Linked DNA regions of Homo sapiens. The protein of the gene in region 1 interacts with the protein of each later gene in a pairwise test. Each region holds a gene or a part of one and is shown on either strand. Other genes may lie near its edges.

The links.
Region 2: the proteins of KIFBP (region 1) and ZNF638 interact in a two-hybrid assay, tested with the Homo sapiens proteins (one large-scale study listed by BioGRID and IntAct).
Region 3: the proteins of KIFBP (region 1) and DPEP1 interact in a two-hybrid assay, tested with the Homo sapiens proteins (one large-scale study listed by BioGRID and IntAct).
Region 4: the proteins of KIFBP (region 1) and PLEKHF1 interact in a two-hybrid assay, tested with the Homo sapiens proteins (one large-scale study listed by BioGRID and IntAct).
Region 5: the proteins of KIFBP (region 1) and RGR interact in a two-hybrid assay, tested with the Homo sapiens proteins (one large-scale study listed by BioGRID and IntAct).
Region 6: the proteins of KIFBP (region 1) and ZNF670 interact in a two-hybrid assay, tested with the Homo sapiens proteins (one large-scale study listed by BioGRID and IntAct).

What each region holds. Positions count from the first base shown.
Region 1 is NC_000010.11:69,002,303-69,005,802, forward strand, and holds part of KIFBP (KIF-binding protein), read left to right. Parts: intron 1-2,743; coding exon 2,744-2,823; intron 2,824-3,429; coding exon 3,430-3,500. UniProt on the Homo sapiens protein: Activator of KIF1B plus-end-directed microtubule motor activity. Required for organization of axonal microtubules, and axonal outgrowth and maintenance during peripheral and central nervous system development.
Region 2 is NC_000002.12:71,421,509-71,426,716, forward strand, and holds part of ZNF638 (zinc finger protein 638), read left to right. Parts: intron 1-1,305; coding exon 1,306-2,530; intron 2,531-3,141; coding exon 3,142-3,207; intron 3,208-4,951; coding exon 4,952-5,208.
Region 3 is NC_000016.10:89,626,458-89,631,665, forward strand, and holds part of DPEP1 (dipeptidase 1 isoform a precursor), read left to right. Parts: intron 1-2,497; exon of another isoform or gene 2,498-2,512; intron 2,513-3,812; exon of another isoform or gene 3,813-3,847; 5' UTR 3,848-3,953; coding exon 3,954-4,057; intron 4,058-5,208. UniProt on the Homo sapiens protein: Hydrolyzes a wide range of dipeptides including the conversion of leukotriene D4 to leukotriene E4. Hydrolyzes cystinyl-bis-glycine (cys-bis-gly) formed during glutathione degradation.
Region 4 is NC_000019.10:29,667,515-29,672,722, forward strand, and holds part of PLEKHF1 (pleckstrin homology domain-containing family F member 1), read left to right. Parts: intron 1-5,208. UniProt on the Homo sapiens protein: May induce apoptosis through the lysosomal-mitochondrial pathway. Translocates to the lysosome initiating the permeabilization of lysosomal membrane (LMP) and resulting in the release of CTSD and CTSL to the cytoplasm.
Region 5 is NC_000010.11:84,242,371-84,248,168, forward strand, and holds the start of RGR (RPE-retinal G protein-coupled receptor), read left to right. Parts: upstream 1-2,682; 5' UTR 2,683-2,720; coding exon 2,721-2,799; intron 2,800-5,220; coding exon 5,221-5,377; intron 5,378-5,798. UniProt on the Homo sapiens protein: Receptor for all-trans- and 11-cis-retinal. Binds preferentially to the former and may catalyze the isomerization of the chromophore by a retinochrome-like mechanism.
Region 6 is NC_000001.11:247,033,314-247,038,359, reverse strand, and holds the end of ZNF670 (zinc finger protein 670), read left to right. Parts: coding exon 1-911; 3' UTR 912-3,723; downstream 3,724-5,046. UniProt on the Homo sapiens protein: May be involved in transcriptional regulation.

The DNA.
Region 1 (3,500 bases):
GTGCCCGCCACCATTCCCAGCTAATTTTTGTATTTTTATAGAGACCGGGTTTCACCATGTTGCCAGGCTGGTCTCAAACTCCTGACCTCAAGTGATCCGCCCACCTCAGCCTCCCAAAGTGCTGGGATTACAGGCATAAGCCACCATGCCCAGCCTCGTACCTTGGCATTTTAACTTTCTTCCTGAAGTACTAACAAGAGCAGAGTGCCACAAAACCAAATAGAGATATTAGTCTACCCTTTCTTGCTTTTAGGCTCACAGTCTTATATGTGAAATTGTTAATTTAAAATGTAAGGTCTGAGGCCAGGCACAGTGGCTCACGCCTTTAATCCCAGCACTTTGGGAGGCTGAGGTGGGTGGATTGCCTGACTTAGAGGTTCAAAGATCAGCCTGGGCCACATAGTGATACGCTGTCTCTACAAAAACTAAAAAAAAATTAGCTGGGTGTGGTGGCGTGTGCTTGTGGTCCCAGCTACTTCGGGGGCTGAGGTGGGAGGATGGCTTGAGTCCGGGAGGGCAGTCCAGGAGGTCAAAGCAGCAGTGAGCGAGGATCCTGCCACTGCACGCCAGCCTAGGTAACCAAATAAGACCCTGTCTCAAAAATAAGTAAAATAAAATGTAAAAGCTGAACACGGTGACTTACACTTATAATCCCAGCACTTTGGGAGGCCGAGGTGGGAAGATTGCTTGATGCCAGGAGTTCAAGACCAACATGAGCAACAAAGCAAGAACCCGTCTTTACAAAAAAAAAAAAAAAAAAAGTTACTAAGCATCAATAGTATTTCATTAAAAATAGTATTTGTATGGAAACATAACACATATAGTGAAATTCCTTGTGTTTAGTTGTACCTCTGTTTCAGTTAAGAGACTGATTTGACTGTATTAATATTACGTATGATGTGTGAAAGCCATAACAGTGAAGTATGTACATAAAATAATATATTGATTAATTCCCCTCATCTAGACAGGGGTAAGCATGGTAAGCAGCCCTCGGAATTGTTGAAGAGTTCTCTGAAGAATTACTTATCTATTGTGTTTGCCTTGGGCCTTGCTTCCTGTCTTAGTTGTTTTTACTTTATGTGAATCCTGGGAGCCCACGTTGTGATGCTTTTAGTGTTTACATCCAGAATGTAAAATCATATTTTTATGAAAGACGTTGTTCCTTTTTGAGTTTAATGAATTCAGTTAAAAGCAAGAGTGTGTTTCTAGATGGGACTATCCTCATAGAAGTAGAATGAGGCAGAGGTTAGGTAGTTCTGTTTTGGAAGACGTAAGAGGGGGTTGTAAGTGATTTATAAATATTACTTAATCCTCATGAGATAGATACTGTTATTACCCTTATTTTATAGATGACTAAACAGAAGCACAAGAGATCAAGTGACTTGCCCAAGGCAATAAATAATGGAATCTGGTTTTAATGTCCCTGTATTGAAAGGGGGTAATACACTTTTGTTATTTCCTTGAGAAAAAAATATTAGAATAAATATTAAAATCTCTCATTTGATTTTTATTAGTGGTCAGTTTAGAATACTACTACTGTAGAAATATATACATTTTTCCTATTTGTTTTGCTTATGCATGTTTTTAAAAGAGCCCTTTTACCAGACAAAATTGCCATTTGAAATACTTAAAGAGGGGTCGGGCACGGTGGCTTACACCTGTAATCCCAGCACTTTGCGGGGGCCGAGGCAGGCGGATCATGAGATCAAGAGATTGAGACCATCCTGGCCAACATGGAGAAACCCCGTCTCTACTAAAAATACAAAAATTAGCTGGGGGTGGTGGCACGTGTCTGTAATCCTAGCTACCCAGGAGGTTAAGGCAGGTGAATCGCTTGAACCCGGGAGGCGGAGGTTGCAGTGAGCCGAGATCGCACCACTGCACTCCAGCCTGGCAAAAGAGCGAGACTCCATCTCCAAAAAAAAAAAAAAAAAAAAAAACTTAAAGAGGCTGGGCACCTTAGCTCATGCCTGTAGTTTCAGCACTTTGGGAGGCTGAGGCAGGAGGATCACTGGAGGCTAGGAGTTCAAGACCAGCCTGGGCAACAGAGCAAGACCCCCATCTCTAAATAAATAAATAAGAATTAAAAAAAGAAAAAATACTTCAAGAATTATATATGTCTAAAAGCAGATTGGTGGATTTTTTGCATATTTGCAGTTTAACTGCAACAACAGTAAAATTTTGTCAAATGTGAACTTTTGACATTTGGTTAAAACAAATAAAAGGGTATCTTTTATTTGTTTGACTCAGATTTTATGGTTAAGAAAATTACTTGTTGAGGCGGGTGCAGTGGCTCACGCCTATAATCCTAGCACTTTGGGAGGCCAAGGCAGGTGGATTGCTTGAGCCCAGGAGTTTTAAGACCAGTCTGGGCAACATAGCGAAACCCTGTCTCTACAAAAAATATAAAAATTAGCCAGGACTGGTGGTGCACACCTGTGGTTCCAGCTACTCAGGAGGCTGAGGTAGGAGGATTGCTTGAGGTGGGAGGATCGGGAGACGGAGGTTACAGTAAGCCGAGATTGTGCCACTCCACTCCAGCCTGGGTGACAGAGACCCTGTCTCAATAAATAAATAAAAATTTAAAAAACAGAAAATTACTTCTTGAGTAACATAAAAATGAACTAGGAAAAAATGAAATGTATTTGGCTTGTAGAAGTTGATTTCTCCAGGTCCTCCAGAAGAGGGCACTTGGTGTTTACAGTTTAAAACTTTAAAGAGCTTTTGTTTTTCTTAATTGTAGGTTGGGAGTCCTCCTCTTGATCCTACTGAGCGTTTTCTTCCTGAAGAAGAGAAACTTACTGAACAAGAGAGATCAAAAAGGTGAGTAGGTATAGAAATCAGCCCTTGCAAATATTTCCACATATCATAGATTAGTGATTGTTCAAAAAGTCACTTATAAAGGTTATAGAATGTGGATTCTGACAGGAGTAAAACCTCCATTTACCACTTACTTGTTATTTGACCTTGTTCAAACCTGAGACTCAGTTTCCTTATCTGTCAAATAGATACAATAAACAAATCCAACTCAAAGGGTTGGTGGGATAATCAAAATAAATATATATGAAATTTACTTATAAAACGTAAACCATGGTCCGGACACGGTGGCTTACACCTGTAATCCCAGCACTTTGGGAGGCTGAGGCGGGTGGATCACAAGGTCAGGAGTTCAAGACTGGCCTGACTATTATGGTGAAACCCCGTCTCTACCAAAAATACAAAAATTAGCCAGGCATGGTGGCAGGCGCCTGTAATCCCAGCTACTCGGGAGGCTGAGGCAGGAGAATTGCTTGAACCCAGGAGGCGGAGGCAGTGAGCCAAGATCGTGCCACTGTACTCCAGCCTGGGCAACAGAGCGAGACTCTGTCTCAGGAAAAAAAAAAAACAAGTAAACCATTACACAAATATTGGTTTATTTTTTCTTTACAGATTTGAAAAGGTTTATACTCATAACCTATATTACCTAGCTCAAGTCTACCAGCATCTGGAAATGTTTGAGA
Region 2 (5,208 bases), on another chromosome or scaffold:
GACCAGTTTGGTTCAAATGATTTAAGACCCTGATGTGGTAGCACAACTTTCTTAAATATGGTTAACATCTCAGCACACAGATATACACCATCTTGTGTTGTTAACTGAAGGGTACATGGCCACCCTCTAAGAAGCAGGTCAAAAGGGATGGCTCATCCTCTCCTTCCTTAAAAAATAGGAGAAGAAAGTCAGTACTTTTTAATAATCAGGTATTGATATGATAGGATCACTCTCTGGTGTCTTTCTCCAATCTGCTGCTTCTCATTATATGAATATATTTGGTAAATTTTAATTTGCATTGATAGCATGTTGGGCATTGTTTTTGGAAGCTAAGGTTTTCCTTGTTCTTCAAGAAAACCTCTGATTTGTGGAATATTGATATAAAAATAACTTATTCTGTGTCTACCTCGGTGAAAGTACTGGAATTATAGGACTACTCACTTTTCATATACTTTAGATTTGGGAAGACCATGATGAAATAAGATGAATTACATATACTTAGCCATGTATTTCCTCCATTTCTTCTGAATATTACTTACACATTTAAGTTAAATATTAGAATTATACATTATTCTCTTGAATTGGGAAGGTTTATTTTTTAATGCATTTCTTCTTATAGCCAAAGGCAAATATTTATAAGACTGTATGTTCACATAAGGTGATTATATCAGGTTTTGTCACTAGCTTTAAATCCTCAATAGAGTATATAAAGAATACTTTCCAAATAATGTTCTAAGTATTATCATTAATAAATATGGTTCTTGGGTAATTAAAAAAATATTTTACATCCAAAAAAAAAATAAAAAGGTGATATGATTTAGAGTATGGTCTTTTCCCCCCACCAGTTTCTGTTTATGTTCTTTTTAGGTAAGGTTCACTTATAAAATTTTAAATCATAATGCATGGATCATTAGTTTTATTGTAGAACTGTACACATATTTTATTATTTCAGTTACCACTGTTGGGAATAGGACCTGATAATATTTGAAGTGTCTCAGATTCACATTTGACCTTTCAATGTCAGGGGTTAACTTGACAGAGGAGGGAAAATATTGGCTGTAATCACATGAGCGCAAAAGGAACATATCAACAGTCATAATTTATATTATTTACGTATTTCCAGCAATACATCTTACCCATTTTATGCTGATTGGTTGGATTTCCCAGTGCTTATTACGAATGCATCAGGAAGTCTTAACAATTGGCATCAGCAGGATTCTTTATAATGGTTGAATTCTCATCATAGTTTGATTTTTGTTTGTGTTTTTGTTTGTGTTCTTTTTGTTTGTTTTTAAATACTTTTAGCCCTGGCTTGAAAAACAGTCCAATTGATGAAAGTGAGGTGCAAACAGCAACTGATAGTCCCTCTGTTAAACCTAATGAGCTTGAAGAAGAAAGTACTCCCAGCATTCAAACAGAAACTTTGGTACAGCAGGAAGAGCCTTGTGAGGAAGAAGCTGAAAAAGCAACATGTGATTCTGACTTTGCTGTTGAAACTTTGGAGCTTGAAACTCAAGGAGAGGAGGTCAAAGAAGAAATTCCTCTTGTAGCATCCGCTTCAGTCAGTATTGAACAATTCACTGAAAATGCCGAGGAGTGTGCTTTAAATCAGCAGATGTTTAACAGTGACTTGGAGAAGAAAGGGGCAGAAATTATTAACCCTAAAACAGCATTGTTACCATCTGACAGTGTGTTTGCAGAAGAAAGGAACCTCAAAGGAATTCTAGAAGAATCTCCATCTGAAGCAGAAGATTTCATTTCTGGAATTACACAGACTATGGTAGAAGCTGTAGCTGAAGTAGAAAAAAATGAAACTGTTTCGGAAATATTGCCATCAACTTGTATTGTGACGTTAGTACCAGGAATTCCCACTGGGGATGAGAAGACAGTGGACAAAAAGAATATTTCTGAAAAAAAAGGTAACATGGATGAAAAGGAGGAGAAGGAATTTAATACTAAGGAAACCAGAATGGATCTTCAAATAGGAACAGAGAAGGCTGAAAAGAATGAAGGTAGGATGGATGCAGAAAAGGTGGAAAAGATGGCAGCAATGAAAGAAAAGCCTGCAGAAAACACTTTATTCAAGGCATACCCAAATAAAGGAGTGGGTCAGGCTAATAAGCCTGATGAAACTAGTAAAACTAGTATTCTGGCTGTATCAGATGTATCTAGCAGTAAACCAAGCATCAAGGCTGTTATAGTCTCTTCTCCTAAGGCAAAAGCTACAGTTTCAAAAACTGAAAATCAGAAAAGTTTTCCAAAATCTGTGCCCAGAGATCAAATAAATGCTGAAAAGAAACTTTCAGCCAAGGAATTTGGTCTGCTTAAACCCACAAGTGCCAGGTCAGGCTTGGCAGAAAGCAGCAGTAAATTCAAACCTACTCAGAGCAGTCTTACCAGAGGAGGCAGTGGAAGGATCTCAGCCCTGCAAGGCAAGCTTTCTAAACTGGATTACAGAGATATAACAAAACAATCTCAGGAAACAGAGGCTAGACCTTCCATCATGAAACGGGATGACAGCAACAATAAGGTGAGGAGGGTAGGAAGAATGGCACAGTGTGTCTTTGAAGTGATTAGCTCCGCTGCTGTAGCTATGTAGTAGGAGATGTAATTTTGTTTCATACTTTCATCTCCTCACTCTACCCCGGAAGCTCCCATTTCCTTTTCTTAAATGATTCCATTGTTTAAGCCAGTAGACATTCAGAGTATTAAACTCAAGTTCATAATTTATTGACATGTTTGAAAAGCATTATTTGGATACAATTTGGAAATAACTGTGGTTTAAAAAAAAAAAAAAAAAGTCTGCAGTGAATCTCCTAAGGTGATTTACCACTCTGCTTCTGAATGGGAAACTGTTTCCTCTCTTAAATTGAAGCTTCCTTTATCAGGTCACTGATTGCCTAACTAGACATTGTGGGACGAAAAGATCAGTAAAACTGAATTTAACTACAACTTGTACAGACTGTGCCTATACTGTTTAGTGACTGTTGACTTAGTTTTGTATACATGTTAAATAATTTGCATAATTGACTGTATTTGGGTAATGTTTACTGTTTTTTTTTGTTTTTTGTTTTTTTTTCCAGAACATTAATAATATGGTTGTAAATTCCGTTTTTCTGTATTTCTTATTTACTATTTCAGACTTTGGCTGAGCAAAACACTAAGAATCCTAAAAGCACTACTGGTAGAAGTTCCAAATCTAAAGAGGTAAAAAATAGATCACAGACCCTAACCCTTCTTTTTCATCTCCATAGCACAGTTCATCTATCTTATAACTTGTGCCTGCCTTAACAATGTTAGTGACTAAGAGTTTAGAGCAAGGGATAGGAATGAGATGTTTTGTTTTTAACTTATCTCTAATCCTACCATTAATTTACTTTTTGACCTTGAGCTAGTCTAAACACCTTGTGTTTTCTTGAGGCGGGGGGAGCGGGCAAAATGTTATATGGGGACAGAAAGAGAGTAGAGTAGGGCAATACCTCCAATCTCATATTGACAGGAATAGGTTGTAGACACAGAAAAAAAATTTATATATGTGAAAGAGACTGACATTTGACTTGAGTCATCCTCATTTTGTTAAAACAGGTTATCCTTTTGGCTCTAATTTAACCTTAAGTGGATGGTCTCTAAGATTAACTTTACTGGTACCAAGTTCTGTTGTCAAACATATTTTATATTTGGTTGTTATTTTAGGTTTTTACCATTCATAGAATTTTTTTCAGTCATTTTACTTTTCTTACCTGGTAGGGGATAGATTTGGGCCTATGTTGTTGGGGCAAGGAGAAATGTTACTAGTTTTAAGCAGAAATAAGGATTATGGCTACTAAAGCAGAAATAAGGATTATGGCTACTAAAGCAGAAGTAAGGATTGTGGCTACTTCAGTTTGCTTTGTTAATTTGATAGTACAATCGCTTGTAGATATTCTCCCTAGAAATTACAGGGTACATATTCTAATGTCGTTATTATATATAATAGCAGTTAATCATTAATAACATACTAAATGTATAGGAGCCCTGGTAGGAATTTATCTTCTTTACTATTGACGGCATTTTTAAAAATTACAGATACTGTTGTTTTCAAATACAGTTATGTTAGTCATTGAGTCTTAGTAATAATTTTTTCATACAACTTTCTCAAAATGTAACCATTATATTTCTTTTATTATTATTATTATTTTGCAACGAAATCTCACTCCTGTCCCCCAGGCTGGAGTGCAATGGCGTGATCTCGGCTCACTGCAACCTCTGCCTCCCAGGTTCAAGTGTTTCTCCTGCCTCAGCCTCCCGAGTAGCTGGGTGGCATCTGCCACCACACCCAGCTAATTTTTGTATTTTTAGTAGAGCTGGGGTTTCACCATGTTGGCCAGGCTGGTCTCGAACTCCTGACCTCAGGTGATCAGCCTCCCAAAGTGCTGGGATTACAGGCATGAGCCACCACGCCCGGCCTGTATTTCTTAAAATATGTATTCTATATATAATTAGTTAATGTGTAATCAATATATACTGATAAATGGAACAGCCTAATTAGCTGTTTACTTTCTAACTATATTTGAGGTGCTTTTAGAAGTCCAGTAAGTCTTCTAGAGCACTTATTAGATGTTTGACATATGGAACAGTAAATCCTTTGTACTGTCTGACAAATACTTTAAATGTATTTTTATGTGTCATACTTCGAAACTCTTCATTTAGGAAATGTAATCTTATTGAATTTAAGTAAAAGTGGAATTAGGTTGATACTGTTAGAATTTTACTTTTGGATTATACTTTGTGAATTATAGCTAAGTCATTTGTGGGGCTTTAAAAAAAACAACTCTTAATTTTAGCCTTTAGGAAAACTAATTTGCACTGAAATTCTCCCAAATGATCTGCATGCACATTTATTGTGACTATTTGGAATCTAGCCAGTGGTCAAAATTTGTTTACAATACTATGATTTTTAACTTTCCAACAGGAGCCATTATTTCCATTTAATTTGGATGAATTTGTTACTGTGGATGAGGTTATAGAAGAAGTGAATCCTTCTCAGGCCAAGCAGAATCCACTAAAGGGAAAAAGGAAAGAAACTCTCAAAAATGTTCCTTTCTCTGAACTTAACTTAAAGAAGAAAAAGGGGAAAACTTCCACTCCTCGTGGTGTTGAGGGAGAACTATCTTTTGTGACATTGGATGAGATTGGGGAAGAGGAAGATGCAGCTGCACATCTAGCACA
Region 3 (5,208 bases), on another chromosome or scaffold:
CTCCTGCCTCAGCCTCCCGAGTAGCTGGGATTACAGGTATGAGCCACCGCGCCTGGCTAATTTTGTATTATTAGTAGAGATGGGGTTTCTCCATGTTGGTCAGGCTGGTCTCGAACTCCGGACCTCAGGTGATCCACCCGCCTCGGCCTCCCAAAGTGCTTGGATCACGCGGTGGCGTGCGCCACCGCACCCAGCCTAAGATCTGGTTTTTAAAAGTGTTTGGCAGTCCCCCCCTCAAACTCTCTCCCCCGCTGCCATTTAAGACATGCCTTGCCTCCCTTTGCCTTCGGCCATGATTGTAATTTTCCTGAGGCCTCCCCAGCCATGTGGAACTGTGAGTCAATGAAGGCTTTTTTCCTTTAAAAATTACCCAGTCTTGGCCAGGCGCGGTGGCTCATGCCTGTAATCCCAACAGCTTGGGAGGCCGAGGCGGGTGGATCACTTGGGGTCAGGAGTTTGAGACCACCCTGGCCAACATGGTGAAACTGTCTGTAGTAAAAATAAAAAATTAGTCAGACGTGGGGCCAGGTATGGTGGCTCACACCTGTAATCCCAACACTTTGGGAGGCCGAGGCGGGCGGATCACGAGGTCAGGAGATCGAGACCATCCTGGCTAAAACGGTGAAAACTTGTCTCTACTAAAAAAAAAGAAAAAAAAGAAAAAAATTAGCCGGGCGTGGTGGCGGGCGCCTGTAGTCCCAGCTTCTCTGGAGACTGAGGCAGGAGAATGGCATGAACCCGGGAGGCAGAGCTTGCAGTGAGCTGAGGTTGCGCCACTGCACTCCAGCCTGGGCAATAGAGTGAGACTCCGTCTCAAAAAAAAAAAAAAAAAGTCAGATGTGGGATCAGGCATGGTGGCTCACACCTGTAATCCCAGCACTGTGGGAGGCCGAGGAGGGCACATTATTTTAGGTCAGGAGTTCAAGACCAGCCTGACCAACATGATGAAACCCTGTCTCTACTAAAAATACAAAAAAAATTAGCTGGGTGTGGTGTGCGCCTGTAATCCCAGCTACTCCGGAGGCCGAGGCATGAGAATCAGTTGAGGCAGAGGTTGCCGTGAGCCGAGATTGTGCCACCGCACTCCAGCCTGGGTGACCTACTGAGACTCTGTCTCAGAGAGAGAGAGAGGAAGGAGGGGAGGGGAGAAGAGGGAAAGGAAGGGCAGGGGAACCCAGTCTTGGATATTTCTTCTTTTTTTTTTTTTTTTTTTTTTTTTTTGAAACGGAGTCTTGCTCTGCCACCCAGGCTGGAGTACAGTGTTGCAATCTCGGCTCACTGCAACCTCCGCCTCCCTGGTTCAAGTGATTCTCCTCCAAAAGCCTCCAAGTAGCTGGGATTACGGGCAAGGGCCACCATGCCCAGTAAATTTTTGTATTTTTAGTAGAGAAGGGGTTTCACCATGTTGGTCAGGCTGGTCTCAAACTCCTAACCTCGTGATCCTCCTGCCTTGGCCTCCCAAAGGGTATTTTTGTTTGTTTTTGAGACGGAGTCTCGCTCTTTCGCCCAGGCGGGAGTGCAGTGGTGCAATCTCGGCTCACTGCAAGCTCTGCCTCCCGGGTTCATGCCATTCTCCTGCCTCAGCCTCCCAAGTAGCTGGGACTCCAGGCACCCGCCACCATGCCCGGCTAATTTTTTTTATTTTTGGTAGAGACGGGGTTTCACCATGTTAGCCAGGATGGTCTCGATCTCCTGACCTGGTGATCCACCCGCCTCGGCCTCCCACAGTGCTGGGATTACAGGCGTGAGCCACCACACCCGGCCACAAAAGGTATTTCTTTCTTTCTTTCTTTTCTTTCTTTTTTTTTTTTTTTTGTGAGATAGAGATTTACTCTTGTCGCCCAGGCTGGAGTGCAATGGCGCGATCACAGCTCATGGCATCCTCCACCTCCCGGATTCAAGCGATTCTCCTGCCTCAGCCTCCCGAGTAGCTGGGATTACAGGCATGCACCACCATGCCTGGCTAATTTTTGTATTTTTAGTAGAGACGGGGTTTCACCATGTTGCCCAGGCTGATCTCGAACTCCTGACCTCAGGTGATCCGCCCGCCTCAGCCTCCCACAGTGCTGGGATTACAGGTGTGAGCCACCTTGCCCAGCCCCCAAAGGGTATTTCTTTATAGCAGTGTGAAAATGGACAAATACAGTGGCCTCAAGTTCTCTCCTTAGTGGCACCTGAGGGAGTGTGGTGCTCTTGGAAATGCTCTCCTGTCACTCAGTTTCTGCCTCTGAAGCGACAAGCAGAACATGGATGTTCTCAGAGTCCAGGGCTGTGTAGATAGTATTGGAGCTGAAGGCAAAAGGAAAAATCAGAATATTGGGCCTGTCTTTATTTTAAAGGTTTGTGGGGGAGGGGGGGCGGTTTGTGTTTTGTTTGTTTGTTTTTCTGAGATGGAGTCTTGATCTGTTGCCCAGGCTGAAGTGCAGTGGCATGATCTTGGCTCACAGCAACCTCCGCCTCCCGGGTTCAAGTGATTCTCCTGCCTCAGCCTCCTGAGTAGCTGGGACTACAGGTGCGCACCACCATGCCCAGCTAATTTTTGTCTTTTTAATACAGAGAGGGTTTCACCATATTGGCCAGGCTTGTCTTGAACTCCTGACCTCAAGTGATCCATCCGCTTCGGCCTCCCAAAGTGCTGGGATTATAGGCGTGAATGACTGTGCCCAGCTATTTTAAAGTTTTATACTTTGTTCATTATGGATTTTTTTTACATGAATTCTGATTTTTTTAAAATATTGAATGAAAATACGATTTATCATGACCTGGGCATGGTGGCTCATGCCTGTAATCCCCGCAGTTTGAGAGGCCAAAGCAGGCAGGTTTGCTTGAGGCCAGGAGTTCGAGACCAGCCTGGGAAACATGGGGAAGACCCCATCTCTACAAAAAATACAAAAATTAGCCAGACGTGGTGGTGCACGCCTGTGGTCCCAGCTACTCAGGAGGCTCAGGCAGGAGGGTTGCTTGGGCCCAGGAGGTGCAGGTTGCAGTGAGCCGAGAGGGAGCCACTGTCCTCCAGCTGGGGCGATCCTCCTTCCCTGCCGGGCTCCCCCCACCCCCCCCCGAAGCCTCTGACCAGTTTTCCCTCCTGCTCCTCCCAGCAGGCCTGGTTTAGCCCCAGTGCTCAGCCCACTGTCCCCCAGAACCCCAGACACCACCCAGCCCTGGGATTAAGATTCTTCCGTCAGGGCACCACCTGGGAACTGTGTGCCCAGGAGCCCTCGGGCGACTTGAATGTGCTCTGCTGAGTCCTAGAGAGGCCCCGGTTCTAAGGACGTGTCTAGCTGCTTGGCCTGAAGCTCTGTAGCTGGAGTGTGGGTCCCTGTGACGCTGGAGGGCTGCAGGCCGGGGGTGCGGACCCCTCAGCAACAGGGCAGGCGCCAGGGGCACACCTGGCTGTGCAGCAGCTTCCTGGAACGCCCTAATGTTTATCCCCCATGGCAAGTCACGTAAGATGATTTTTACGTGGAAAGGGGTGCTTTATGAGAATGCACTATTTGAATGACTGTTGTCTTGCTTGCAGATCTAGGCCCCCGGGTCCTGAGGGAGGTGGTAGTAATAACAGTAGCACAGCTAGAGCCAACAGCCACTCACCACTCATCTGGGCCTGCTCTCAGCCTGCTGTCCTTTCATCTGGGCTCTAGCTCCACCCCTGGGTCTGGGATCCCAGCTTCTTACTATGCCTCCGCCTAGCCCAGACAGCAACGCCCAGTCATTGAGTGTCCGGCCTTCCATCCTACCCACCCTGGTGGGGAATGTGCTGGTTACTTATTGAACATGGGAAGCTATAAACAGGAGAGCAGCCACCTGTCATCACTTCCACCCACACCTCTGGTGCCTCTCCTGGCAGGCAGAGTGGCTCCTCACAGCCTGAAGCTCATCCTTCTGCACGGGCCAGCCAGGCCAGCACAGAGGCACCAGGGCAGCAGTGCACACAGGTCCCCGGGGACCCCACCATGTGGAGCGGATGGTGGCTGTGGCCCCTTGTGGCCGTCTGCACTGCAGACTTCTTTCGGGACGAGGCAGAGAGGATCATGAGGGACTCCCCTGTCATTGATGGGTGAGTGCTCACCTGAGCCAGGTGCTTAGGGAACCAGGACTGGGAACTGGGGCTGGGAGAGCGGGGCTGGGGGAGCCGGGGCTGGGGGAGCGGGGCTGGGGGAGCCAGGGCTGGGGGTGCCGGGGCTGGGGGTGCCGGGGCTGGGGGAGCCGGGGTTGGGGGTGCCGGGGCTGGGGGTGCCGGGGCTGGGGGAGCCGGGGCTGGGGGTGCCGGGGCTGGGGGTGCCGGGGCTGGGGGAGTTTGGCCTGGGGAGTTGGGGCTGGGGGAGCTGGGGGTGAGACTCGTGTGTGCTTGGCTTGGGGCTCAGTTTCTCTGGGGGTGAGACTCGTGTGCCCTTGGGTTGGGGCTCAGTTTCAGCTTCTGCGACGGTGCCGGGCCCTTGCCCTTTCCTGGCCCCTGCTGCTTTGTGGGGTCTCTCAGGGCCCCCAAAGACTTCAGCGGATGAAGGTCTGCAGGGACTGGGCAGGAAGGAGGCAAGGCCACACTCCCTGGTCCCGAAGCTCAGAGTGAGGTCTGAGCCTGCGGACGTGGAGGCCCTGCGCCCCAATCTCACCCTGTGCCTCAGCTTCTCCCAAAAGCAGCAGGTGCGGGTGGCACCCTACAGGCCCTCTCAGCCGGCATCTTTTTGGCTCTCTTCCCACTCCCCCCGGCCTGCCTTCTCCCGGGGGGAGGCCCATGCCACTTGGGCCCTTGCCTGTGCTGCGCTGTGTGCCCACCCGGCCCCCACCCCCGACCTCGCTGGGGCACCTGGGTCACCTGCTTCTGTCCTGACCTCCTCAGGGCGGAGATCCCCACTGCCCGGGAATCCGACCCTCTTCCCCGCCCCTTCCTGGCCCAGTGCCCCGACACTGGGTCACCATGGAGGCCTCCTGCTTCCAGGCACCAGACTCAGATCAGGGTCCACACTGGCTCCGCGTTGGGGTGGGAGGGTCACTGAGAGTCCGCCCTGTGTCTGGCATGGTGTCTCCACCTGGAAAATGCCTCTGGGCTTTGTTGGGGAAAAACTGTGAAAAAAGCAGGGAAACCCGATGTCTTGTCGCATAAGAACTTCAGGGAACAGTCCAGGCTGGGCAGTTCACGCCTGTAATCCCAGCACTTTGGGAGGCCGAGGCGGGCGGATCACCTGAGGTCAGGAGCTCAAGACCAGCCTG
Region 4 (5,208 bases), on another chromosome or scaffold:
AAAGTCCAAAGGGCTGAGCTGCCCCCAGAACTCTGATTCCCTTGGTGACCCTGGCCCTGCACGTCCCTGAGCAGGTTCTCCACCTGTAACCCGAGGCAGAGCAGTTACAGCCCCCACCCCATCCCCCACCGCTGCCCAGCTCCTACTTTCCAGGGCTACCATCTTGGGGCCCCACGCATCTCTCATTTATCCAAAATGCTGTGTCCGGAGTAGGAGAGAGGACAGGACGACTCCCGTCAGGACAGTACCTTGTGTGGCCTGTTCAGCGTGCCCTGCAGTGTGTGCATTATACATTTTACAATGTGGCATGGTGTAGATCAGGGGTTGGCTAACCTTTTCTCTCAAGAGCTGGTAGCAAATAGTTTAGGTTTTGCCAGCCATACAGCCTCTGTCCCACATGGCTGTGTTTGAATAAAACTGGATTTAGAAAAGCTGGCAGTGGCCCAGATTTGGTGTAGCTCTCCAGCCCCTGCTGTTGATCACGTATCACACCTGGGCTGCCACATACAGAACCTGGCTTCATGGCTTCTGCAGCCACACGGGGGCTCTCAGGATGTGGCTCCCAAGCCGCAGTGCTCACATGAGCACCTCCAGCCCCTGTGCAGGCAGCAGGATTGCTGAGCCTGAGAGCCCCCACCCCTCTGAACCCTCAAAGAAAGATGCAGGTCTGTTCGTTGCCTGGTCTCCCAGGCTTACTGAGCCTGCGCTGGGGTCACCCCTCTACCAGCAGCCCTGGGGCCACACTGGGGCCAATACAGGCACTCAGGGCCCAGAGGCTGCCAGGAAGCTCTGTCACCAACATCTTCCCGAGGCAGGCCGGCCCCAAATGAGTAAGGACAGGGCTCAGCTTTTTTCTCCCCTGTGCTAAGCAAGGGAGGTTCACTTCCCTAGTGAGAACAATTAAAAAAAAAAAAAGGATTCCCAGCTGGGCTCAGTGGCTCATACCTGCTATCCCAGCACTTTGGGAGGCTGAGGAGGGAGGATTGCTTGAGGCCAGGAGTTCAAGACCTATCTAAGCAACAGAGTGAACCCTCGCCTCTAAAACAAATTTAAAAATTAGCCAGGCATGTTGGTGCATGCCTGTGGTCCCAGCTACTCAGGAGGCTGAGGCGGGAGGCTTTCTTGAGCCCTGGAGTTCGAGGCTGCAGTTAGCCCTGATTGTGCCACTGTACTTCAGCCTGGGCAACAAAGCAAGACAATGTCTCAGAAAAAAAAAAAAAAGAAAGAAAGAAAAAAGCATTCCCCATCTAACTCAGGGCTGCTGTATTTGCCAAGAAAAACCTACAGGCAAGGTCAAACCAGGATGTGAAGTTGTGGTCATGTAGAGAAGGTGAGCATGCCGGGGCAGCTCCCAGGAGGATGTTGTCTGCCCCGCCCCTCGCCCAACCTGGGACCCTCTGCAGGTTCACAAAGGAGGGCACATGTGAGCCCCTGGCTTCCCCAGTCAGTGTGTGGGGTCAGCTCTCAGCCCAGCCCCTTTCATCGCCACCAGATGCCCCTCCTCGCCCTTCCTGGTCCACATTTTACCATCAGCAGCTGGACACTAGCCCTAAGAGCCTAGAGGGGGTCTGTGAGTCATGGGTGGGGGCAGAGCAGCAAAGGGGTCCCATGTGGAGTGTTCTGCACCCCCTCCAAGGGCTGCAGAGACAGCGTCATGGACTCTGCCCTCTGCTGGACGGGTCCAGGGTGGATTGGGCACCCCTGCCTGCAGCTCTCTTCTGCCTGGTGCTGCTCCTTCCCTTCCTCCATGCCATCCACTTGGCTGGCCCAGTCTCCAGAGCTCAACAAGCCCCCAGGGTTGCGGGAGGGCTACCTGCTCTCTGGGCACAAAGCCCACCTGCCTCAGCTACTGAATGTGGAGGCTTTGGTCTGCAGTCTCAGGTTTGGGTTTTCATCCCGTTTCACCAGTGGCCTGACTTCTCAGCACACAGCTGGGCTGGGGGCACACGTGGCCTTGCTTCTTCGGGGCTCCTGACATCCCCTGCAGGTGCCCAGGCCTGGATGCCATGTGGTCACCCTATCAGGCCCAGCCAGGCGTCCCATCATGAGACATGCTCAGCGGCCCCCAGCCCATGGAGCCCAGGACCCAATCCAGACACTGGCCTGTAATTCTTTTCCTTTTGAAGACCTTAAATTAGAAGAAGCAACACGTGTTCCCATTTCTTGAAATTGGCAGATATTCGGATTTCATCGTGTTTGCTGCTGCCTTTTTTTAAAAAAACTTTTTTAAAAATGAAACCTTATAGACGAAAGTGGAATCCAATCTGAGCCCTCCATTCCTGGTCACATCTATGTCCTCTCCCCAGGCTACTTACTCCTGACTTTCTCCTTCCTATCTTTTATTTTTACCATTCTAACCACTTTCAAGTGTACAGTTCAGTAGTGTTAAGTATATTCCCATTGTTGTGCAACAGATCTCCAAAACTTTTTTTTTCTGAGACGGAACTCACTGTGATGCCCAGGCTGGAGTGCAGTGGTGTGATCTTGGCTCACTGCAATCTCTACTTCCTAGGTTCAAGTGATTCTCCTGCCTCAGCCTCCTCAGTAGCAGGGATTGTAGGTACATACCACCATCCCTGGCTAATTTTTGTATTTTTAGTAGAGACAGGGTTTCACCATATTGGCCAGGCTGGTCTCGAACTCCTGACCTCAAGTGATCTGCCCGCCTTGGCCTCCCAAAATGCTGGGATTACAGGCATGAGCCACCACACCTGGCCTCTAAAACTTTTTAATCGTTTAAAACTGAAACTCCATACCCAGACAACCTCCGCATTCCCCTTCTGGCAGCCCCTGGCAACCACCATTCTATTTTCTGTCTCTATGAATTTGATCAGTATGTATATCTCATATAAGTTATTACAGTATTTGTCCTTTTGTGATGGGCCTGCTTTACTTAGCATGATGTCCTCAGGGCTCATTCGTGTTGTAGTGTGCGTCAGAATTACCTTCCTTTTCGAGGCTGAATAGTATTCCATGGTATGTATGTTCCACATTTTGTTCATCCATTCTCCCATTGACAGACGTTTGAGTTGCTTCCACCTCTTGGCTATTGTGAATGATGCTGATATGAACATGGGAAAGCAGATATTTATTTTAGTCCCTGCTTTCAGTCTGGATATATATCCAGAAGTGGCATTGCTGGATCATATGGTAGTTCTGTTTTTAACCTTTTTTTTTTTTTGAGACGGAGTCTCACTCTGTCGCCCAGGCTGGAGCACAGTGGCGCGATCTCGGCTCACTGCAAGCTCCGCCTGCTGGGTTCACGCCATTCTCCTGCCTCAGCCTCCCGAGTAGCTGGGACTACAGGCGCTCGCCACCACACCAGGCTAATTTTTTGTATTTTAAGAGACAGAGTTTCACCGTGTTGGCCAGGATGGTCTAGATCTCCTGACCTCATGATCCCCCCTCCTCGGCCTCCCAAAGTGCTGGGATTACAGGCGTGAGTATTTTTAACTTTTTAAGGAACTTCCATGCTGTTTTCCTTAGGGGCTGCACCAGTTCCTATTCTCATCAGCAGTGCACAGTTTCCAGTTTCTCCACACCCTCACCAACACTTGTTATTTATTTTTTGTTTTGTTTTTTTCCCCTCCTTTTTTTTTTTTTGAGATGGAATCTCACTCTGTCACACAGGCTGGAGTGCAATGGCGCCATCTTGGCTCACTGCAACCTCTGCTTCCTGGGTTCAAGCGATTCTCCTGCCTCCGCCTCCCGAGTAGCTGGAATTACAGGTGTGAGGCACTGTGTCCGGCCTTCCTCCTACCTATTTTTATTCATAGATATAGTTCTTGAACACTTTCAGAATGTTATGTAATTCCTGCATAAGTGGTGTCACTTTACATACAACATTCTACAGGCTGTGTTTTTCCACTCCACGTTTGTTGTTTGCCGTCAGACCACATTGATCTGTATCTCTCATTGCGTGAGTAGCCCCGGGTTTTTATCCTTTTCCCTGCTGGTAGGCATTTTGGTTGTCTCTGCTGGGCAGTCATTGCTCTTTGTGGAATGCAGTTCTGGTTTTGTCAGATTGTCCCTCAGCCAGGTACTCGGTGATCAGTCATGGTGGGACAGGTCAGTTCTGTCACTGGTAATCCCCTAGGTTTGCAGTATACAGCCAAGATCAGCAAGCTAAAAATAGCAGTTCTTACGTAAGGTAGTGTGGGCAGCCCTTCTCAGGACACTTGTGATCTGCAGGGGCAAGTGGAACGGGACTCGAGGGCCCAGCATCTTCTGTTCTGCAATGCATCCACCCTCACACTGGGGCCCCACTCTGGCTTTCTACTGGTGGCCAGGCTCAGAACTGCAGCTCAGTGACCCAGAAACACTATGGGTGTGATCAGCTCAGCCCCAGGCGTGCCGTGTGTACCGGAATGCATGTGTGCACGTGGTGGTGGTGGGGCCAGCTCTCACCTCTTCCTCTGTAGAGGTAAGAGCTGAGTCATGCATGGTGGGCCTTGGGACCTGCTTGGAACCGTGCCAAGCTACTTATGAAGCATCTAGTATGTGCTTGGCATGGCTCCAAGAATTGTGGACACAATGAACAAGAAGAAGCTCCTGTTCTCATGGAGCTAAGAACTGAGCAGGGAAGCAGAAAACACACAAGCAATGAATAGACAAGCAAACAGCAGGTCCTGTTAAATCCCACAAAGAAAAACGATTGAATCCCAGAGAAGTGGCCAGCAGACCTTTTCTACAAAGGGCCAGGTGGTGAATATTTTAGGCTTTGTCACCATGTAGTCCCTGTCACCAACACTCAACTCTCCCATTGCAGTGTGGAAGCCACCAGAGACAATAATAAATGAACGAATGTGGCTGTGTCCCAATAAATCTTTAACAAAAGCAGGCTGAGGGCCGGATTTGACTCTCAGACCTTGGATTACCAATGCTTGTCCTGGGTGTGGGAAGAGGCTGCCTGAGCTGGGGTTGTCAGGGAGAACCCTTTCAAAAAGGAACTGAGAACCCGTTGCAGGAAGGAGCTGACCCTGGGACAGCCTGTCTCAGGTAGGACACAATGGCACCTTGCCACCGATATGGTGGCGGAGTTATGTGCTGAGAAATGGGCAGGCTAGATTTGAGAGGTAAAGATGATGAGATTTACTCATGGCTTGAATATTGGAGGTACAGGAAGGGGGAGATTCAAGGATGTGTCCTAGGTCTGGGGTTTGAACTCCTGGATGAATGGTGGTGTCACTGAAGGAGAGGAAGAGGTGC
Region 5 (5,798 bases), about 15 Mb from region 1:
ATTGCTACGAATGCCAAAGGTGGAGATGTCTCCACATAAGGGACAAGGGCACCCCTCTCCTCAAGGTGCCCTACTCCAAGGAGGGCCCCAGAGAGGTAGCTCAGAGAGGTCTTAGAGAAGGCACTTTCAGGTTTTTTTGGAGACAGGACCCCAACCTCTAATAAGGGCCTTTGGAAATTCTCCATCCATAAAGCTTTGTTTTGCTTTATAGGGACAGGGTTGCTCTGTCACTCAGAGTGGAGTGCAATGGTGTAATCATAGCTCACTGTAGCCCCGAACTCCTGAGCTCAAGCCATCCTCCTGCCTCAGCCTCGCAAGTAGCTGGAACTGCAGGCAACCACCACCATGTTTGGCTATTTTTAAAAAATTATTTTTTGCAGTCAGGGTCTTGCCATGTTGCCCAGGATGGTCTCAAACTCCTGGCCTCAAGCGATCCTCCTACCTCAGTCTCCCAAAGTGCTGGGATTACAGGCCTGAGCCACTGCACCCAGACTAATTTCAATTTTTACTTATTCTCTCCTAACCCTATCTCGCCCCACCATATCTACTCAAGATGCCAGTGGGGACTGACCAGGGATGATTCCCAGCAGTAGACACTCAGTCGACTCATTCATTCATTCTTCACATTTGACCCTGAGGCATTGTTCTCTGGTCCAGCATGCCCTACCTATGTTGTTTGGCTTTTCTAGAAGGTTCCCCAGTCCTTCATGCCTGTGGCTCCAGGCAGGCCTAGACCAGTGAGGTATGACCTGCAAAGATATCTGGGGCCCCAGTGCACACATAAAATGCCTAGCTCGGAGCCAGGTCTGTTTCAACAATACTGGCTTCTCATTCTTTCCTTCCTTCCAATGCAGCCAGTAGGATTTTCTCAGTGCTTCCCAGCTATACTTCCACCTCCCCAAACCCAGCCGTCAGCTTGCCTGTTCCCACATCTCTGCTTCTTCCTCCTTGTGTCTTTTGCCCAAATGAACTTTACCCTTTAATCTTGGCCTTGCCCTGCTTTATCTCCTCTCATGAAGGCTTTTGTGATCTCGAAGGCATGAAAAAAGGACTGACATATGTATTAACCAACACCATAAGGTAGAAATTGAGACAGAAGGCCAGGCAGGGTGGCTCATGACTGTTATCCCAGCATTTTGGGAGTCCAAGGCCAGCAGATCACCTGAGGTCGGGAGTTCAAGACCAGCCTGACCAACATGGAGAAACCCTGTCTCTAATAAAAATACAAAATTAGCCGAGCATGGTGGCACATGCCTGTAATCCCAGCTACTCGGGAGGCTGAGGCAGGAGAATAGCTTGAACTGGGGAGGTAGAGGTTGCGTGAGCCGAGATTGCGCCATTGCACTCCAGCCTGGGCGACAGAGCGAGACTCCATCTCAAAAACAAACAAAAAAACAAAAAAGAAATTGAGAAAGAACAGGGAACGCTCTGGAGGGCGCAGCCATAAGCTCAGCCCTGCAGAGGGATTAGGCTTGGATGTAAGTGAGGACTCATGAGAGGAAAGGCCTGGGAAGTGGGCATTCCTGGAACAGAGTGGGTTGCTCTACCAGGTGAGTCAGAAGATGCCATTGAAAAATGCCTGAGCCTGAGGAATAGGAGATCGGCTTTTGTTCCAGCTCCATCCATAAATTACTGCATGGCCTCAGGCAGATTCTTAACTGTTTTTAGCCACAGTTTCCTCATCTAAAATGGAAAGGATAATGGTATCTAACTCATGGAGTTGTTGTAGGACTCATCAGAAGATCCCCTAGCACAGGGCCTGACCTCACTCAATATTAGCTATGTTGCTGATAGTGCTCTGGAGCTTGGTTTCTTTATCTGAAAATGAACTAAGTTGTCCTAGATCAGTATTTCCTGGTGTAAATTTTATCATGAGCCAGAGCATAACAGTGCATAAAGAGCCAGTGTATCAAGAAGTCATTTGTAGCAGCCAAAGCTCTTAGTGGGGCCGGCAAGGCTGGGCGGGTTCGGGGTCGGAGACTGACAAGACGGCAGGCAGCCCCTCTGTTCTAAGACAGTGTCCTAGGACATTTTTTATGCTCAGGTGCTCTATGGGAGACAGGAAATGCAGCCCTGAGGTTTATATTCGTGATATCTAACCAGGACTTATATAAAGGCCACAGACAAAAGACATTGACATTGCAGAAAAGTAAACGGAAGAGTCCAGTGGTCCCACTCCAAGGCGCATAACTAGTTAGTGGCAGATTCAGAACCAGAACCCCAACCCCATTTTCTGGTCCCAGATGGGGTTCTTCCTCTGACAGCAGGCGACTTCCCAAGCCTCATCCTTTCCCCAGCGCTTTGGAGTATACTCATGTGAGCCTGAGGACACACACACAGGCACCAGGCTTGTTGGGAACAGCTGCGGCTCAAATCCCTCCTCCTGCTCCCCTCCCCTGGTTATGCAACTCTTTTCCAATTAGGCTCTCAGCCACACACCATTTGGATTCCCCGACCTTAATCCTGTGCAATGGGGCTGAAATGAATGAGACAGGGCTCCATTCTGGCTTCACAAAGGCTGCATTGTCCAACTCGTGAATGGGTTCCTTCTGCTTGGGCCAAGAGGACCATTTGCAGCGGGGAGGCATCCAGAAACAGCCCAAGGTCCAACATAATAACCTGCATGTGCCTCCACGCACATGGGATGGCCCTTTAAAAGGGAGGGCCTGGCTGTGGGAAGCCAGAGACAGCTGGGCCACTGGCAGTGAGGGAGAGTGAGGATGGCAGAGACCAGTGCCCTGCCCACTGGCTTCGGGGAGCTCGAGGTGCTGGCTGTGGGGATGGTGCTACTGGTGGAAGGTGAGCCAGGCAGAACCTGGGGTGCAGCGGGGGCCCAGTGGGTTCTGAGGACCCAGGCCACCAGTGTGGAGCTGGCAAGGAGAGGAGAGGTCCCCAAACCCAGCTGGGTGTCCGGTCCCATTGGCTGCCTTCCCCTCTGTGCCCGGACTCGGGGGGTGTTCTGACAATTGAACCTGTGAGGTGCAGCACACTGCCCGCTGGGAGCAGAGAGGAAGCCAGGCAAGGGTCAGGGAGGGAGGGACTTTGAAAGGGGACATCTGCCCAGGAGATGATCAAGAGCCAGGCTTTAGGACTTTTCATGTCCCTCCAGCCGGGAGAAAATTTAATCCACTCCTTGGAAATCCTGCTGAGAATCCCACATAAGATCAGTCCCCCAAAAGGCTCTGGGGACAGACAGCTCTGCCTCCTGCTCTTGTGTGGCTGGAACCAAGTCCCTTCAGCTCTCTGCCCTCAATGCCTTGACATTCCGAATGGGTGGTTGTAAAGATTAAATGGGATAATGGGTATAAAGTGCTAGCCTAAATAGACTCTAGGGTATTTAAGTTCATTCACTCCCATCCTCTCCAGCCCCACCACTATTTTCACTGTGTCTACTCCTATGAGCCCAAGCACTTCACCTCTGGAGGCAACCTGGGTCTGCGAGGTACCTACCTCAACCTAGAATCCCTAAGATGCTCGCTGAGGCCAGAGCTAGAGACAGTGTCAATCCTGAATCTGGGCCAGCCCAAGCTAAATTGATGGAGAACGCAGCTTTGGTTCAAAGCAGACCCAGAGAAATCATCAGCACGTTTTCTCACCTAATGAGAACTGACAATGGAGAGGAAGTGACAGTCATTAGATTGGTCCTGAAGGCTCTGGACACGACTGTCTGGTGGCCCCAGCCCGTGTCTCCCTTTCCTGAGAACCCTACAATCTAGCATCCTTCCAGGTCCTCAAACATGCCATAAAATTTTACCACTTTATTTTTTGGAAGGGGTTTAAATTTACATTTTTATTTCATGTTTAATGACTAGAAATGTCATTATATACACAATGCTTTGGTTTTTATTTTATTTAAAATATGTTTTAAATTTCAATAGCTTTGGGGATACAAGTGATTTTTGTTTACATAGATGAATTACATCGTGGCAAATGCTAGGACTTTAGTGCACTCATCACCCAAGTAGCGTACATTGTGCCTCATTTGTAGGTTTTTTTAATCCCACTCCCTCTCCCACCCTTCCCCTTCTGAGTCTCCAGAGTCCATTGTGTCCTCTGAATGCCTTTGCGTACTCACGGTTTAGCTCCCACTTGTAACTGAGAACAAACAGCATTTGGTTTTCCATTCCTGAGTTACTTCACTTACAATAATGGCCTCCAGCTCCATCCAAATTGCTGTAATAAGACATTATTTCATTCCTTTTTACAGCTATTATTCCATGATGTATATATACTACATTTTCTTTATCCATTCATTGGTCAGTGGGCACTTACATTGATTTCGTATCTTTGCAATTGTGAATTGTGCCTCGGTAAGCATAGATGTGCATGTGTGTTTTTGGCTGGATTAAATGGCAGATCTACTTTTAGTTATTTAAGGAATCTCTATACTGTTTTCCATAGAGGTTGTATTAATTTACATATTCCCACCAGCAGTGCATAAGCATTCCCTTTTTACCACATCCATGGCATTGATCTATTGTTTTTTGACTTTTTAATGATGGTCATTCTTATAGGAGTAAGGTGGTATCTCATTGTACCATAGCATGTCTTTGCACATGCTATTCCCTCCTGGAATGCTCTTCCATGCACTGTCCTGCAGGTAAGTGCTTCTCATAGTTTTGAAGGCAGGATTTTTTCCTGTTCCTCACTTTAGATAGGGGAAGCTGAGGTTCAGAGAGCTTAAGGAGCAGCAAGCGAGGCAACCAAGCCAAAATTCAAGGTCGGGTCTCTCTGTTGCCAGAGTACGCCCCCTTCATGTTCACTTCCATGCCTGGCGTCCTGGGCAGCTCCCAGCTCTAACATCGACTCTTCTCCTTGGAGCCTCTCTGACTTTGCTCTACAGTCCTTGGAGAAGGCATTTTGAAATCCAAAAGGCCTGAATTCAAGTTCCAGCTCCACCGCTTACTAGCTGTGTACTTAGGGCAAGTTAGCTAGTGTCTCTGAGCCTCAGTTTCCCAGCTATAAATGGAGAAGAGAGTATCCAAGTAAAGATTGAATGAGATGACTCATATAAAGTGCTTATCCTGGTGCCTGGTGTGTGCTAAGTGCCTGGCAGCTGTCAGTGATTATGACTGTTATAGCATGAAGCATGCTACCCTATATTGATTGTCTTCCTTGTCTGTCCAGGAGGTTGCTGATGTTCCATCCACCCCACACACACTGTTCTGACCCCAGCTGGGCCTCAGCAGCCCCAATGCCAGCCCCCACCCTTCCTTTCAGCTCTCTCCGGTCTCAGCCTCAATACCCTGACCATCTTCTCTTTCTGCAAGACCCCGGAGCTGCGGACTCCCTGCCACCTACTGGTGCTGAGCTTGGCTCTTGCGGACAGTGGGATCAGCCTGAATGCCCTCGTTGCAGCCACATCCAGCCTTCTCCGGTACCAGCCCCCTCCCCAGTCCACAGGCTCTGGGGTCCTGCCTGGGGCCTGACCCCTGGGCCCTGGGCAGCCAGGCCAAGGGCATTTTTACTACTTACAGAAAATTGGCCAAGGGCAGAGGGTGGGCAGGCTAAAATGGGCTGAATTCCAGATTGATTCTGAAGAACGACAGCTGATTTCTGGAAGACAGGGGTTGCTGAAACCTGATGAAAGAGATGGTAGGCTGTAGAGATCAATGGTGTGGGTTCTGTAACCAAGCAACCTAGGTTTGCATTCTGGCTTCAGCATTTCTAGTTCTGGGCTTCTTCCATAAATCGGATATTATTTCCTAACTCATATAGGTGGTTGGAAGTATTTACTTCTATTATGTGTAAATAACTTAAAATAATGCTTGATACCTAGGACTCTACGTAAGTGTTTG
Region 6 (5,046 bases), on another chromosome or scaffold:
ATTCAAATTTGAATCTGAATAAGAAAGTTTCTACTGGAGTAAAGCCATGTGAATGCAGTGTGTGTGGAAAAGTCTTCATATGTCATTCAGCCCTTCATAGGCACATCCTGTCTCACATTGGAAACAAACTATTTGAGTGTGAGGAATGTCCAGAGAAGTTATATCATTGCAAACAATGTGGGAAAGCCTTTATCTCTCTCACCAGTGTTGACAGACACATGGTAACACACACTAGTAATGGGCCTTATAAGGGTCCAGTGTATGAGAAGCCTTTTGATTTTCCTAGTGTATTTCAAATGCCTCAGAGCACTTACACTGGAGAGAAAACATATAAATGTAAACATTGTGATAAAGCCTTCAATTATTCAAGTTATCTTCGTGAACATGAAAGAACTCATACTGGAGAGAAACCCTATGCATGTAAGAAATGTGGTAAATCATTCACTTTTTCCAGTTCTCTTCGCCAACATGAAAGATCTCATACTGGAGAGAAACCCTATGAATGTAAGGAATGTGGCAAAGCCTTCAGTCGTTCCACTTACTTGGGAATACATGAAAGAACGCATACTGGAGAAAAACCCTATGAATGTATAAAATGTGGCAAAGCCTTTAGATGTTCCAGAGTCCTCAGAGTCCATGAAAGGACTCACAGTGGAGAAAAGCCCTATGAATGTAAACAATGTGGTAAAGCCTTCAAATATTCTAGTAACCTATGTGAGCATGAAAGAACTCACACTGGAGTGAAACCTTATGGATGTAAGGAATGTGGTAAGTCGTTTACTTCTTCCAGTGCCCTTCGAAGCCATGAAAGGACTCATACTGGAGAAAAACCCTATGAATGTAAGAAATGTGGTAAAGCCTTCAGTTGTTCCAGTTCCCTTCGAAAGCATGAAAGAGCTTATATGTGGTAAAAAACAACAACAACAAAACACCTCTGTCAATGTAAGAAGTGTGTTAAAGCTTTCAGTTATTCTAGTTTCATTAGAACACGTGAAAAAATTAAAAACTCAAATTAGAGAGAAACCCAACACATGTAAGGAAGATTAGAATGTATGCAATTTTCCTAGTTCCCTTCTAAAACTTAGAAGGACCCGTCCTGGGAAAGAACGTCATAAAATACGAAAAATGTGTTAGAACACTTTATTTTCCCAGCCGCTTTCAAATATATTTTTATCAGTGGTTCATTGTTAAAGAAGGTGTCTATACTTTAGATTTTCAGTTTTTTGCAGGGAATCATGGAGCTGAGAATTTCACAGATACTTTATAAGCCATAGTACATGAGCTTAATAGGCTGTGTTTTGTTTCTCATCAGTTAACATAATTTTTGTCTATTCATTTAAAAATTTGTTGGATCCCTAGACTAAGTTGAAATGTATTTCTAATAGTAGGCAATTTTAATTTTCATGTAGTTGTTTAATTGTTCTCTAATTAATGGACCAATGAAAAATGAGTTCATGTGTGTGTGTGTGTGTGTGTGTGTGTGTGTGTATTCTACCTTTTTATGGGAAAACTACTTTTTTGTTGTAAAGATTTTCTTCTGTTTTCTTTGCTAATAAAGAATTGTTATTAATTTGCATGTATGTGAAGTTTATATAGTCTCATGTACATTGTTATTTTCATTTTCTTTCCTTTATTCTGTCATGAGTTTTGGCTGTTACTTGCATAGTTCACTTTTTTAAAAAATGTTATGTTTTTAGAGAGGGTCTCACTTTGTCAGCTAGGCTGAAGTGTAGTGGTAATAATAGTCTTAGCTCACTGCAGCCTCAAATTCCTGGGCTCAAGTGATTCTCCCACCTTAGCCTCCTATGTAGCTGGAGCTACAGACACATGCCACCATGCTCAGCTAATTATATAATTTTAAAAATTTTTTATAGAGATGGGATCTCGCTGTATTGTCTAGGCTGGTATTGAATTCCTGGCCTCAAGCTATCCTCCTGCCTCAGCCTGTCTACATGTTGGGGTTACTGACATGAGCTACCACACCTGGCCCACTTTTTACTTTGAATTAAGAAGAGAGAACTGTGATTGGACAGTATGCTTGTCTAATCTGCGTGTGAAAGCATTCAGTCTCACCATCAAGTATATTGTGGATTTTTCATAAATATTCTCAAACAGGCTCAGGAAGTTTTCTTGTGTTTTTTATTTATTGTTTCATGGTAAAGGAGTGTTGAACTCTTATGACATGTTTTTTTCTGCATCTATTGAGATGATTTGTGGTTTTTGGCATTCTACTGATAGTCTATTACGTTAACTGGCTTTCAGATATAAATATATTATGGTTATCTGGGTGAAATTTGTCTTCATCATGGAATATAAGTATTTTATCTACAGGTTGAACATCTGTAAACCCCAGATTCCAATACCAAATCTGAAATGCTCCGAAGTCAAAAACTGTTTGAGCACCAGTCTTATGCTCAACAGAAATGCTCATTAGAGGATTTTTGATATTTGGATTAGGGATGCTCATCCAGTAAGTTTTCTGCAAATATTCCAAAATGTTAAAAGTCTGAAATCCAAAGCACTTCCGTTCCCAAGTATTTCAGATAAGAAACACTCAACCCATATTGATAACGTTCAATTTTCCAGTGTATTGTTGGGGCCTTTTGCATTTATAGTCAAATTGGTGTGCCCTAGTATACCATATAGTATAGCATCATCTGTATATATAGCATGTCTACATGTATACTTATATGTGTATAAGTAGCTATATAATATGTGGTATAGTACAGTTTTGTAAGTTACTATGAATTATGCATAACTAGTTTATATTATGTGTAATTAGCACTACAATAAATTGTATATTACAGGATTATGGCATTATAACATACTATTTTGATCTTATCAGTCTGTAGCCTAACATATTTCAGTTGCCTACCATTCCACAGATGCATTTAAACAAACCAATTGCATCCTTATGAGAACCAAGAAGCATCTCACGTTCTTGATACTACAAAGCATTCCCCTTACACCCTGTTTGTTCTATCTGCTCCGTAGTGCAAGTCTTGTGTGGACCAGCCTCGTTTACAGAACCCTCCCTTTTTTGTCTATGAATGTATGTAACTAATAACTTCTCTCAATCTTATCTGTACACTCATGGGTGTCACGTGTTTTTCCCAGTAGTCTTAGGGTCCTAATTTTTCCTGTCACCCATGAGACTGTGAAAACAATTGGCATTACCAACAGAATGAACCAACCATGACTGATGATATCTTTTCAGCTTTAACTACCTGCTTTTGTCTAACTGGTTCCATAATATAACAGAAGTCACCTGAATTAGAAACAGCAATTGATGGTGGACTTTCACTTTGGTCTACACAGTGCTTTGTGTTATCAGCTGTTGCCACCTCTTCCCACAGTAGAACTCTCAACTCCTAGACATGACTGGTTGACCAGCCGTTCCCCAGGAGGATGTATGTTCCACCTTGACCTGTGTTTGGCAGGCAGTTTCCAAGGTACCCCACATTGAGGCAGTGACCCAGCACCTTCACCACTGGGTTCTTTATTCCTGATTATCAAAAGTCAGACTACTGCTCTGTGGTAACTGCATCTCGTTTGGTTGCCATCACTGGATGCTTGGAGTAGCCATGTGAACGTTATTACTGTACACACTTGGGACAGCTCCAGGGATTTTGTGTGTGTGAAGTTGCAGAAAGGAAGAATGTCCCCATGCTGGGGAGAATTAAGCATGTCACCTAATTGTGTAACAAGATGACTTGTGCAAGACTAGTGGCCTTGAGTGTTTTCTTGTGCTGTTGCTTTTATGTGCATTCTTCTGATGAGGTGCACATCCATGGTGCCTCTTGGTCCAGGCACTGATGAGTCAAGAAAAGGGGAGGAAGCATTTGGCATTAGCCTCTTTCATTGCAGAACCTCTATCTAGTATATGGGCTTCTTTTAGCACTACTGATCAGCATGCCAAAGGCCTAACCTTGCAACCTAGATGACCTTAGTCAAAATGACCTTACTGTATGTTGCTAACACCAGCAAGATTGAGTGGCACTCACTGGAGGATTAGGTGTTCTTCAATGTGGGTTGACGGACTCCTGAACTGTTTTCTTTAACCACACAGATTGCCCACACTACCGATAAATCAAATGCTGCTACTTTGCATGAGAAGAATTAAAAGATAGTCTGAAGCAGTTTTTATAGAAAGAAGACAAAAGCAGTCATGAGTCATGCTGTGGTCCAGAAACCTAATAGCAGATGGCCAACTGGGACACTGAAATTTCTGTACTGCTACTGCCTATGTTTCTATCACAACAAATATCCTGATCCCTCACTGTTAAGGATTCAGAACTGTCCTCCAAGTTTTATTGGACTGGTCCGGTTCTACCCTCTTTCTTACTTGCAGTTTTCAAGAATAAGTGTAGAATGTGCTGGGAATGGAATATCCTGATATCAGAAGAGAATGGTAGAACAGCCCAGACTTAACAGTCTTCACAAGAAATACAATCTCTCAACACTTTTGGTCAGTGAGTCAGGTGATCCTGGGCTATAAAACCTGGGCTGGGCTATTTTCTGGAGTCTCTTAACTGTGTTGCAAGTGGGGCACATGCAATCAAAATTCCATCCTTCCAGGCAACTTCTCTGAACCTCAGGGGGACCACATCACACTGAATTTTAGACTTCTCATCTTCGATCCCTTTATAAGTAATAAATCAACTTATGTAATATGTGCATGAATGTGTTCTCTCTCATCATACTCAGACAAGCTGATAACAGTACACAGTGAGCCTGCTTTGGGGAGAAACAACCATGGTACCCATATGACACAGCAAAGGAGTTAATTCAAACATAAACCTAGAATTCTTTTTTTTTTCTTTTTGAGACGGAGTCTTGCTCTGTCGCCCAGGCTGGAGTGCAGTGGCACGATCTCGGCTCACTGCAAACTCCACCTCCCGGGTTCATGCCATTCTTGCCTCAGCCTCCCAAGTAGCTGGGACTACAGGCGCCCGCCACCATGCCCGGCTAATTTTGTTTTTGCATTTTTTGTAGAGATGGAGTTTCACTTTGTTAGCCAGGCTGGTCTCAATTTCCTGACCTCGT